2 separate regions of the Homo sapiens genome follow, and region 1 is linked to region 2. Evidence: fine-mapped expression QTL. Tissue or cell type: left ventricle. Region 2 holds a variant in brackets; the other region holds the start of a gene. All regions are shown on one strand. Distances are between the middles of the regions.

Region 1 (5,123 bases), 35 kb after region 2:
CCAGCCTGGGTGACAGAGCAAGACCCTGTCACTAAAAGAAACAAACAAAAAAGTGTCAGGGGCTGGGCTGGGTAGTTTTCACAGATGACCCGATTTAATCCTCAGGACGCAGCCTTGCCAGGAGGCGTCCTCACCCATGACCCAAAGCACACGGAGAAGTCAGTAAGGGGCCAAGTCCTGTCGAAGGCCCAGAGCTCAGCAGTGGCAGCGCTGACTGGAGCTCACAGTGGTCCCACGCCAAAGCAGAGGCTCTTATTTATGCTCCTGCCCTCGGACGGGGCCAATAAGCAGCCGGGTTGGGGATATCTCATAAAACACAAGGGAAGCACACACCTGAGGTGGGAGTGGTGGCCCCGGGAATGACCGAATGGCGAACGCAGTGAATAGATCAGGAGGGAAAAGAGGCATCCTGGAATGAAGACCACTGCGGCCGGGGTGGCCACATCTGGGTCAGGACCCACAGGACCCCAGTCATGCCCACTGCGCCTTGCTGAGTGCCCTGTGCTGTTACCAGTGGGGAAACCGAGGCATGCCACCTGTGAGAGTCTTGTCCGGCACAAGCGCGGGCACCTGAGGCACGAGTGTCAGGCTGCGGACACCTTGCTCTTATCTTTCCCGCCTGGGTCGGGGAGGGTGGCGTCCCGAGGGCGTGCCTGAAGAGCCGGGACACGGGGGGAGAGGCTCGGCTCCCCTCCTGCCTCGCTCAGCTCCCCCTCCCCTGTGACGAGCGCCCCTCTGCCCTCTGGTTCCCCCGCAGTCGTCTCCCTGGGATGCCTTTTGGCCCTTTGCTCTTTGCCTTTTGCCCAGAATCTCCAGTTCTGAGTCCTGAGTGACCCACGGGCCAACCTTAAGAGGTGGCGCTGAGGCAGGAAGGCACGGCCCTGACAAGGATGCTGCCTCAGGTGCCGGGGAGCAGGCCCCGGGAGAGGGGCCGAGGTGGGGAACCCCCAGTCGCCTGCCACAGTGAAGGGGCACCAGGACCCCCGGGGCAGGAGCCTCGAGGGGGTGTCAGGGCGGCCCCAGGGGTGCCCCTCATCTTGTCCTCCCAGTGGTGTCACACCCCGGTACCCAGCAGGGCCCAGAGGGACTGTCTTAGGCTTGGCCTGGGTGAAACCACCCTCCCCAGGCCTTGGCATCCCCAGGTGCAGGCTGGCTGGGCACAGAGGGCCAGCCGGGCACAGAGGGTCCAGGAGCGGGCTGTGGTCACAGTGTACACAGAGGGCCCAGGGTCACGGGCAGCCCAGGAAGAGGCTCCCTCTCTCCTCGATCCGGGAGAGTGAGGCCAAGGCCTCCCCCACGGATGGTCTGAACAGGGCTCGGGGAGAGCCCTGGAATCTGGGCAGAGACCCAGGCGGGCACAATCCCCACCCAGGAGGGATCCTGGAGACAGAAGAACTGTCCTCACTCGAACAGGTACACTTTGGATATAATGAGAAAAATATCACCAGCTCATCTAAACTTTGACGTCGTAAAGCCAAGGTTAGTCCCACATGGGGCTCATCCCATCCTTAGGAAAACTCGAGTGAGGACCAAGGATGCCTGGGCAAGGCAGAGCCGCCACGCAGACTCCCCACGGCCAAGGTTTGGGGTTCTGGCCAGCCTGACCCGTCATTCTACAGAAACACGCAGCCCCAAGGACCGGCTGAGAGGGGACAGAGGTCCTGCCTGCCCAGGAGCAAAGAGGGGACTTGGGCCAGGGGAGGAGTTGGGGCCCAGAGAGGAACCCAGGAGTTCGAGCTGCCCAAAGCCACACAGCTCAGGGTAAGGGGCAGAGCTGGGGGCCAAGGCTGGGCCTGCCACAGCACCCCCCGACCTGCCAGGGACTGAGAGTGAAAGGTCCCTCCAGACCCCTCGCTCCGGGACCCCTGGGCTGCCAGGGCCAGGCCCGCCTCAGCACCCCCCGACCTGCCAGGGACTGAGGGTGGAAGGTCCCTCCAGACCCCTGGCTCTGGGACACCTGACCGCCGACCCCACCTACCTAAGAACCATCCTGGCCGCCAGCCCAGTTGTAGCACCGCCCAGACGACTGGCCAGGGCGCCTGTGGGATCTGCATGCCTGGAGCAGCCCCACCAGAGTGCCGCCTTCTCCACTGCTCAGGCGGAGGTGAGCGGAAGGGAAACTGTCCCAGGTCAGGTTGAAGGGAGGGTGCCCGCCCCTTGCTCCCGCCCCCTCTTCCTCCACATCCACGTGGGCGAGAGTGACAGAGGCAGTGCTGGGGGAGGAGGGGTGAGGAGGGGGTAGGACTGGGGAGAGGGTGGGGGAGGGAGAGAGAGACAGAGACAGGGAGACAGAGGAGATGGGGAGGAGGTGGGCCCGTGGCCCCCACGCCCTACCCCGTGGGGGTCTCCCCAGCTCAGGGCCCCTTCCTCCTCTGTGTCTCTGCTCACTGCTGTGGCCTCTTTCCATATCCCGCCCGAGCTGCCCCTCCTGAGGCTGCCGGGTGGGGGCAGGCCCTTCTCCTCCCCCATCCCCCCCATCTCCCTGGGGGCCGGGCCTCCCTGCCTGGGGAAGGTGGGTGGCCCCCTCTGGGCTCAGGTTCCTGGGCTGCAGTGAGGGGTGGGCTCAACCCCACTCCCATTCTGTCGGAGCCTCTGGGAGCCTCCCGGCTGCCCACAGCCTCTGCCCCTGCTGGGGGCAGGTGCCTGGCCTCTGCCTTCCCGGCCCATCCCCCTTCGCTGGGGCACAGGTGACCCTACTGAATGACAACTGTCCATGGCTAATCGGCTCCCCCTCAAAGCTTCCACCTTGTGGATGGCCTCACACCATGGCCACAGTTCCAGATCTTTCCACCGTGTGATGCCTGCAACAGCCTGACGGGGGGGCTGGGGCGGTGGCAGGGGCTGGCTGTGAGGCTGACCTCCCCTTCCAGCCTTGACCTTCTTCCCCGGGGCCCTGCCCTCCAGCCCACTCGTGCCAGGGTGGGGTGGTTCAGGGGGTCCAGTGCCTGGGCCTGGCTGGCGGCCCGGCGTTTGTGAAATGGCTTGCTTATCTCCTTGTATTCTGTGCTGAGCATTTTATTACAGCGAATGGAAAACAGGAGAAATGAAACTGCTGATATTAGTGATGAGATGCGTCAGGCTCATCAGCTTAAAATAACCGAAGCGAGGCTAGAAACCGCCTGACAGCTGGCGCGGCTGCCTGGCTCCGAGAGACACTCGGCCCGGCTCTGAAGGGAAAACATTAAAGCACCGAAACAGTGGAAAAAGAGCATCAAAGATGATGTCTGCGAGGCGCGGCCACGGCGAGGAAGCTCTCGTTTATGAACAAAGGGCCACTCCCGGGTCTCAGAGATGTGAGGCTGTGTGGGTGGCTTGGTGGGGAGGTGGGGGGGGCCCAGCTGGCCAGGTGGGCTTGGCGGGGGGCCCCCAGGGAGCCTGGCAGCACCCACTGTGCTGCCAGACAGCTAAGGTGGCCCGCAGCAACTGTCTCCTGGCACACCCACCCTTGTGCCTCAGGGGCTGGGGCTCTGGGGCTGGAGAACTGTTGGTTGGTAGGTGCCTCCATAGCCCTGTGCCTCGCCCAGGCAGTGGATAAGTGGCTAAGCTGCCCCTGCTGGCTGTACTTGTCCTGAAGGCAGATTCTGGACAGAACCTCCCTCTGCCCCCAGCCCTGTAGAGCCTTGTTCCAACCTCTGTTGAATGCTGTCTCTGTTCCAGGGCAGCAGTGGGCCTTCCTCAAGGCTCTGAGCTTTGTGGGACGAAGCTGTCCTCTGAGGACTGGGAATGCCACTGTGTGGGCTGGAGGGGAGGCTGGGCCCAGGAGGTGGGCTCTGAGATGGGAGATGCTATCAGACCCCTGGAAGGTCTCCTCACCACCAAGGCCCTGCCCCCAAAATTCCACCTGCCAGGGCTTGGACACATGTCCTGGAGTAGGGGGCGGGCACAGGGAGAAACCCAGCTTCCATCCTACCCCTTCCTTCCTTCTCCTTCTCCCACCCCTCTCCTCTCTCCCTGCAGTTCTTCCCTGTCACCCACTCTCCTTCCCTCCTCCTCTCAGTCCCACTGAAGGCCCCTGGGCCATGGGAGAGGAGACCTGGTGGGGTGGGCCCAGCGTGGAGCCAGGGGACTGCGGCCACTGAGGCCAGGGCTGCCTGATGGTCTCTCCACATTGCTACTCGCTGGAGCACCTGCAAAGAGACACATGGACCCAGGGAGGGTCTGCAGGGCTGCGAGGGGTCTGAGCCTGGAGAGCACAGGGCCTGCAGGGATGCAGGCATTGGGCATTGGGCCTGGACTAGTAGGCTGAACCTACAGGGTCCTGGGACCCCACCCCGAAGCAGATAGGCGGTCCCAGGGCTCAGGTGTGGGGTGGGGACTCATGGAGCCTGCACCCCAATATCACACTCCAGACCACTTATTGACACCCTCCCCCAAACACATACGGTGTCCCCAACACACGATTTCCAACACACCACACCCCAACACACACAGTCCCCAACACACACACAGTCCCCAACACACACACAATCTCCAACACACACAATCCCCCCACACACAATCCTCAACACACACACAAAATTCCCAACACACACAATCCCCAAAACATACACAGTCCCCAACACACACACAAAATTCCCAACACATACAATCTCCAACACACACAATCCCCCTGCACACAATCCTCAACACACACACACAATTCCCAACACACACAATCCACAACACACACACAATCCCAACACACACACAACTTTCAACATACGTAGAATCCCCAACACACACAATCCTCAACACACACACAAAATTCCCAACACATACAATCCTCAGAACACACACAATCCTCAACACACACACAATTCCCAATACACACACAATCTCAAACACACACAATTCCCTCACACACAATTCTCAACACACACACAAAATTCCCAACATGCACAATCCCCAACGTACACGCAATCCACAACACATACACAAAATTCCCAACGCACACACAAAATTTCCAACACACAATCCTCTGTACACATTGTCCCCAACTCACACACAACTCCCAACATGCACAGAATCCCCAACACACACACAAATCCCCAACACACACAATCCTCAACACACACACAATTCCCAATACACACACAATCCCCAACACACCCAATCCCCAGCACACACACAGAATCTCCCCCACA
Region 2 (5,195 bases):
TAACCCTCATCCTTTTACCTCTTGTCCTGGCTTACTGGGCTGGCAAGGACCTCCAGGAAGATGTTAAACAGCCTTGATGTCTGATAGGCCAAACAAGGGCCCGGAAGCCGTCTGCATCCTCATTCCGGGGCCTGCACCATGACGTCATGGCGAAGGGCTGCGCCGAGGGGGCCGGCTGAGGGTCTTGAGGTGAGAAATCATCCTGGTCATCTGGGTGGGTCCAGGGTCTCACCAGGGTCCTTATGGGAGGGGACAAAGGGTGGGAGAGGAGGGAGGAGGCCTTGGAGCTGGGTTTGAAGATGGAGGAGGGGCCACAGCTGAGGAGCCGGTGGCCTCTGGAAGCTGGAAAAGACGGGAAGCGAAGCCCGGACAGCCTGCAGAGGAACCAGCCTTGCGGACCCCTTGATGTTAGCCCGGGGAGGCCATGTCAGACCCCCGGCCCCCAGAACTTCTGGGGATGCATTTGTGTCGTTTCAACCTCCAGGTCTGTGTGATTTGCTATGCAGCCTCGGGAAACAGCTGTGTGGCCACCAGGGTCCCACCCTGCTCCCGCCTTCTGGGCTCCAGGACGCAGGTGTGGGACCCCTCACCATCCGCATGGCCCTCTGCTGTGCACTCTCCTTCTCGTTCGTGTCTGTGCTGCATTCTGGTTGGTTTTCCTTGGCTTTTTTTTTTTTCTAGTTCACGAATTCTCTCTTTGCTGTGTTTAATCAGCTGGGAGTTACTCTCTTGCTCCCTCTCTCCCTCCCCCATCCTTTCTCTGTCCTTGTCTCTCTGTCTCTGTGTCTGTCTCTGTTTCTCTTTGTGTTTGTGTCTCTCTCTGTCTCTGTGTCTTGGGCTGTCTCTCTTTGTGTTTGTGTCTGTCTCTTTCCGTGACTCTGTCTCCCTCTGTGTCTCTGACTCTGTGTCTCTGTCTCTCTGTGTCTCTGACTCTGTGTCTGTCTGTGTCTCTGACTCTGTGTCTCTGTCTCTCTGTGTCTCTGACTCTGTGTCTCTGTCTCTCTGACTCCGTGTCTCTTCTCTGTGTCTCTGAGTCTGTCTCTGTGTCTCTGTCTCTCTTTCTCTGTCTCTGAGTCTGTCTCTGTCTCTTTGTGTCTCTGACGCTTTCTGTCCCTGTCTCTCTCTGTGTCTCTGTCTCTGTGTCTCTGTCTCTGACTCTGTATCTCTGTCTCTCTATGTCTCTGACTCCGTGTCTCTGTCTCTCTCTGTGTCTGAGTCTGTCTCTGTGTCTCTGTCTCTCTTTCTCTGTGTCTCTGTCTCTGTGTCTCTGTCTCTCTGTCTCTGACTCTGTGTCTCTGTCTCTCTGTGTGTCTGTCTCTGTGTGTCTGTCTCTGTGTCTCTGTCTCTGTGTCTCTGTCTCCCTGTGTCTCTGTCTCTCTCTCTGTGTCTCTGTCTCTCTCTTTCTCTGTGTCTCTGTCTCCCTGTGTCTCTGTCTCTCTCTTTCTCTGTGTCTCTGTCTCTGTGTCTCTCTCTGTCTCTGTATCTCTGTCTCTCTGTCTCTGACTCTGTGTCTCTGTCTCTCTGTGTCTCTCTCTGTGTCTCTGTGTCTCTCTCTGTGTCTCTGTCTCCCTGTGTCTCTGTCTCTCTCTTTCTCTGTGTCTCTGTCTCTGTGTCTCTCTCTGTCTCTGTATCTCTGTCTCTCTGTCTCTGACTCTGTGTCTCTGTCTCTCTGTGTCTCTCTCTGTGTCTCTGTGTCTCTCTCTGTGTCTCTGTCTCCCTGTGTCTCTGTCTCTCTCTTTCTCTGTGTCTCTGTCTCTGTGTCTCTCTGTCTCTGTATCTCTGTCTCTCTGTCTCTGACTCTGTGTCTCTGTCGTGTCTCTGTGTCTCTCTCTGTGTCTCTGTGTCTCTCTCTGTGTCTCTGTCTCCCTGTGTCTCTGTCTCTCTCTTTCTCTGTGTCTCTGTCTCCCTTTGTGTTCTTCTCCACGACGTTCTCTTTGTCTGACTTTCTGCTCCTGCCGCGTGCGCAGAGGGGCGAGGAGGAAGCATTTGCGCATGCGCAGAAGGCTCGCTCCACGCCACGTGCTTCAAGCGCGTCGTTCCGTTTAGTATGAAATAAAGGCCCGCGGGGTGGAGAACGTGTCTGTTTTCCAGATGTGGAGATCAAGGCCCGGCAAGTCCTCTGTTGTTGACGGTTCTCAGGTGGTAGAAACGATCTCGCAGCGCACCTGCGTGGCTTCCGAAACCGTTGTCTCAAGCGTGTTCCACTTGATGTGATTAAAAAAGTTCTCGTGGCCCCAAGCACCTGCTTTACCTGCTCAGACCAGAGTGTCGTTCCGTCCCATTCATTCCGCAGCTTTCCCCGAACGCACACAAGTGAAATGTAAATGTCAGTGTGTGTGTATCTATCTCCCGTTTCTCCCAAAGCGAGACCGTCAGCTGCTATCACTGCACAGCGATGCGGGGACCAGGCCCGGTCCCTTCAGCCCGGGGCTTCGGCCCCCGGCGTTGTCTGACCCTCGTGCTCAGCTGTTCCTGCTTCTTCAGGTTCCCAAGGCATCCCCAGCCAGCTTCCCTCCTGCAAACCCCCACCCTGGGAGCTTGACCAATGACATCGACATCTTTCAATACTTGAATCCTGACTACTTCTTCTTCTTCTTCTTTTTTTTTTTTTGAGATAGAGTCTCTGTCTTCCAGGCTGGAGTGCCGTGTTGTGATATCTGCTCACTGCAACCTCGGCCTCCCGGGCTCAAGCGATTCTCCTGCTGTAGCCTCCTGAGTAGCTGGGATTACAGGCATCTGCCACTACGCCTGGCTAATTTTTGTATTTTTAGTAGAGATGGGGTTTCACCATGTTGGCCAGGCTGGTCTCAAACTCCTGACCTCAGGTAATCCGCC[T/C]GCCTCAGCCTCCCAAAGTGCTGGGATTACAGGTGTGAGCCACTGTGCCCAGCCTCATTCTTCTTCTTTTTTTTTTTTTTTTGAGATGAAGTCTCACTCTGTCGCCCAGGCTGGAGTGCAGTGGCGTGATCTCTGCTCACTGCAATCTTCACCTCTTAGGTTCAAGTGATTCTCCTGCCTCAGCCTCCTGAGTAGCTGGGATTACAGGCACGCACCACTATGCCCAGCTAATTTTTTGTAGTTTTAGTAGAGACAGGGTTTCACCACGTTGGTCAGACTGGTCTCAAACTCCTGACCTTATGATCCACCCACCTCCGCCTCCCAAAGTGCTGGGATTACAGGCGTGAGCCACAGCGCCCGGCCCTCATTCTTCTTAATAATTGCATGAGAGCTGCTGGTGGGAGTGTGAAATGGTGCAACCACTGTGGAAAACAGTAGCCATATCACTTCTCAGAAACTTAGAGATGGAATTACTGTATGATCCAGCAGTTACCCCGCAGAATTGAAGGCAGGGTCTCAGAGATACATGTGCACCCAGGTTCACAGCAGCGTTACTCACGATAGCTAAAATGGGGAAGCAGCTGAAGTGTCCATCCATGGGTAAGTGAACAAAACGTGGTCCATCCATACAAGGGAATATGATTCTGTCCTAGGAAGGAAGGGGATTCGACAGTTATTATGACATGGATGGACCCCGAGGATGTTATACTGAGTGAAATAGGCCAGTCACAAAAGGTCAGATATCGTATGATTCCACTCATATGAGGTCTCTGGAGGAGTCAAATTCTTGAGATAGAAAGTAGAATGGTGGCTTCCAGGAGCTGGGGGAGGCGGAGTGGGAGCAAGTGTTTAATGAGGGCAGAGCTTTGGTTTTTCAAGATGGAAAGTTCTGGAGATGGATGGCGGTGATCGCCGCACAACACTGGGAATTAGTTTAACATCATTGAGCCGGCCACTTAAAAATGATTAAGATGGTGTATTTTATCACAAAAAAAAATCAGCAAAAAACTTGCATGATGGATTCTAGAGTGTAGATGTGCTGAAATGTATTCCACATTTCCTTATCAAGGGAAATAAAGATTATTTCTATTTTTTTCCTTACCACTACAAAAATAGCTTCAGTAAATATTCTTGAACATAGATTCTTACAAACTGGAATTTTGATTTCTGTAGGATAGATTCCCAAATGTGGGGTGACTGAGCAAAACAGCTCTATCATTTTTATTTTAATAGAGAATTCTTTCTCAGAGGAAATAGCCATCCCTGTCCCATCAGTCATGCATGGGAAGGCTTGTGTCCTTGCACACCTGCTGGTACTTCACATTATCTGCCTTTTTACTCTTTTTCCAGTGTGATGGGTACACCATGTTATTTGCCAGTCTTGGGTGTAGAGCAGGTGAGAGTGAGCTTCTTGGCCAAACAACAGCATCCAAACCTCCCATTCCATGCTTGCTAATTTCCCTTTTCCTTGCCAGAAAACATGATTCTATTAGGCTCCATGCAATAGAAACTCTCCACTACCATATTTGAGGTGGGTGTCCTTAATAGATGGCATTTGCAAAACAAAACAAAACAGAGGCCGAGTGCAGTGGCTCACGCCTGTAACCTCAGCACTTTGGGAGGCCGAGGCGGGTGGATCACTTGCAGTCAGGAGTTCGAGACCAGCCTGGGCAACATGGCAAAACCCCGACTCTACTAAAAATACAAAGATTAGCTGGGCATGGTGGCGGGTGCCTGTAATCCTAGCTACTTGGGAGGCTGAGGCAGGAGAATCACTTGAACTTGGGAGGTGGAGGTTGCAGTGAGCCAAGATTGCGCCACTGCACTCCAGCCTGGGTGACAGAGTGAAACTCCATCTCAAAACAACAACAAACAAACAAACAAACAAACAAACAAAACTGAGCCCTGGGTTGGGAGTGGGCTCTGGAAGGCATCAAGAACAAAATTGTAAATAATGCAGAATGAGGTGGGGCTGTTATTGTCATTTATCTTCAAAATCTGAGCTATTTATCAAGAATGGTTTGGATGATGGGGAAGGACGGAGGACTGTCTACACAGGCAGATCCCATGGGGAAGGGAATAGGAAACTGGCTGGGGGGTTTCTTCCAGGGTGCCCAAGATAAAGAGTGTCCTTCAATTGGCATTAATGAAACAGGGTGGATGTGAATCCTGGAGTCAGGAGTCCTGACTTCAGACTTCACTTCCAAGCAGCATTACCATGGAACTCCTCAGAGCCTTTTCCCTCATCTAGGTTGGTGGTCCAGAGGCAAATGCAGGACCACCTTTCTGCTTACCAGGCTGTGAGCTCTTTGAGTGTGGCAACCAAGTCTTTGTCATCTTTCTGTTTCTCCCCTACCCCA

Evidence for each region. PIP is the estimated chance that this variant, and not a neighbour inherited with it, causes the effect.
Region 1: PDCD1 starts here. The variant in region 2 is fine-mapped to the expression of PDCD1 in left ventricle (GTEx, PIP 0.94).

The regions. Positions count from the first base shown.
Region 1 is chr2:241,856,785-241,861,907 of GRCh38, forward strand. PDCD1 (programmed cell death 1) reads right to left here and starts at 2,110. Exons shown (of 5, transcript NM_005018.3): 1 at 1,979-2,110. The coding sequence starts at 2,054. LOC124908032 (a long non-coding RNA gene) reads left to right here and starts at 2,288. Exons shown (of 2, transcript XR_007088436.1): 1 at 2,288-3,293. RefSeq lists an enhancer at 1,316-2,278.
Region 2 is chr2:241,821,945-241,827,139 of GRCh38, forward strand. No RefSeq gene overlaps it. Among named protein-coding and RNA genes, the nearest start is that of NEU4, 15 kb to the left of the region's middle. The variant T/C (reference allele first, on the strand shown) is at 2,836.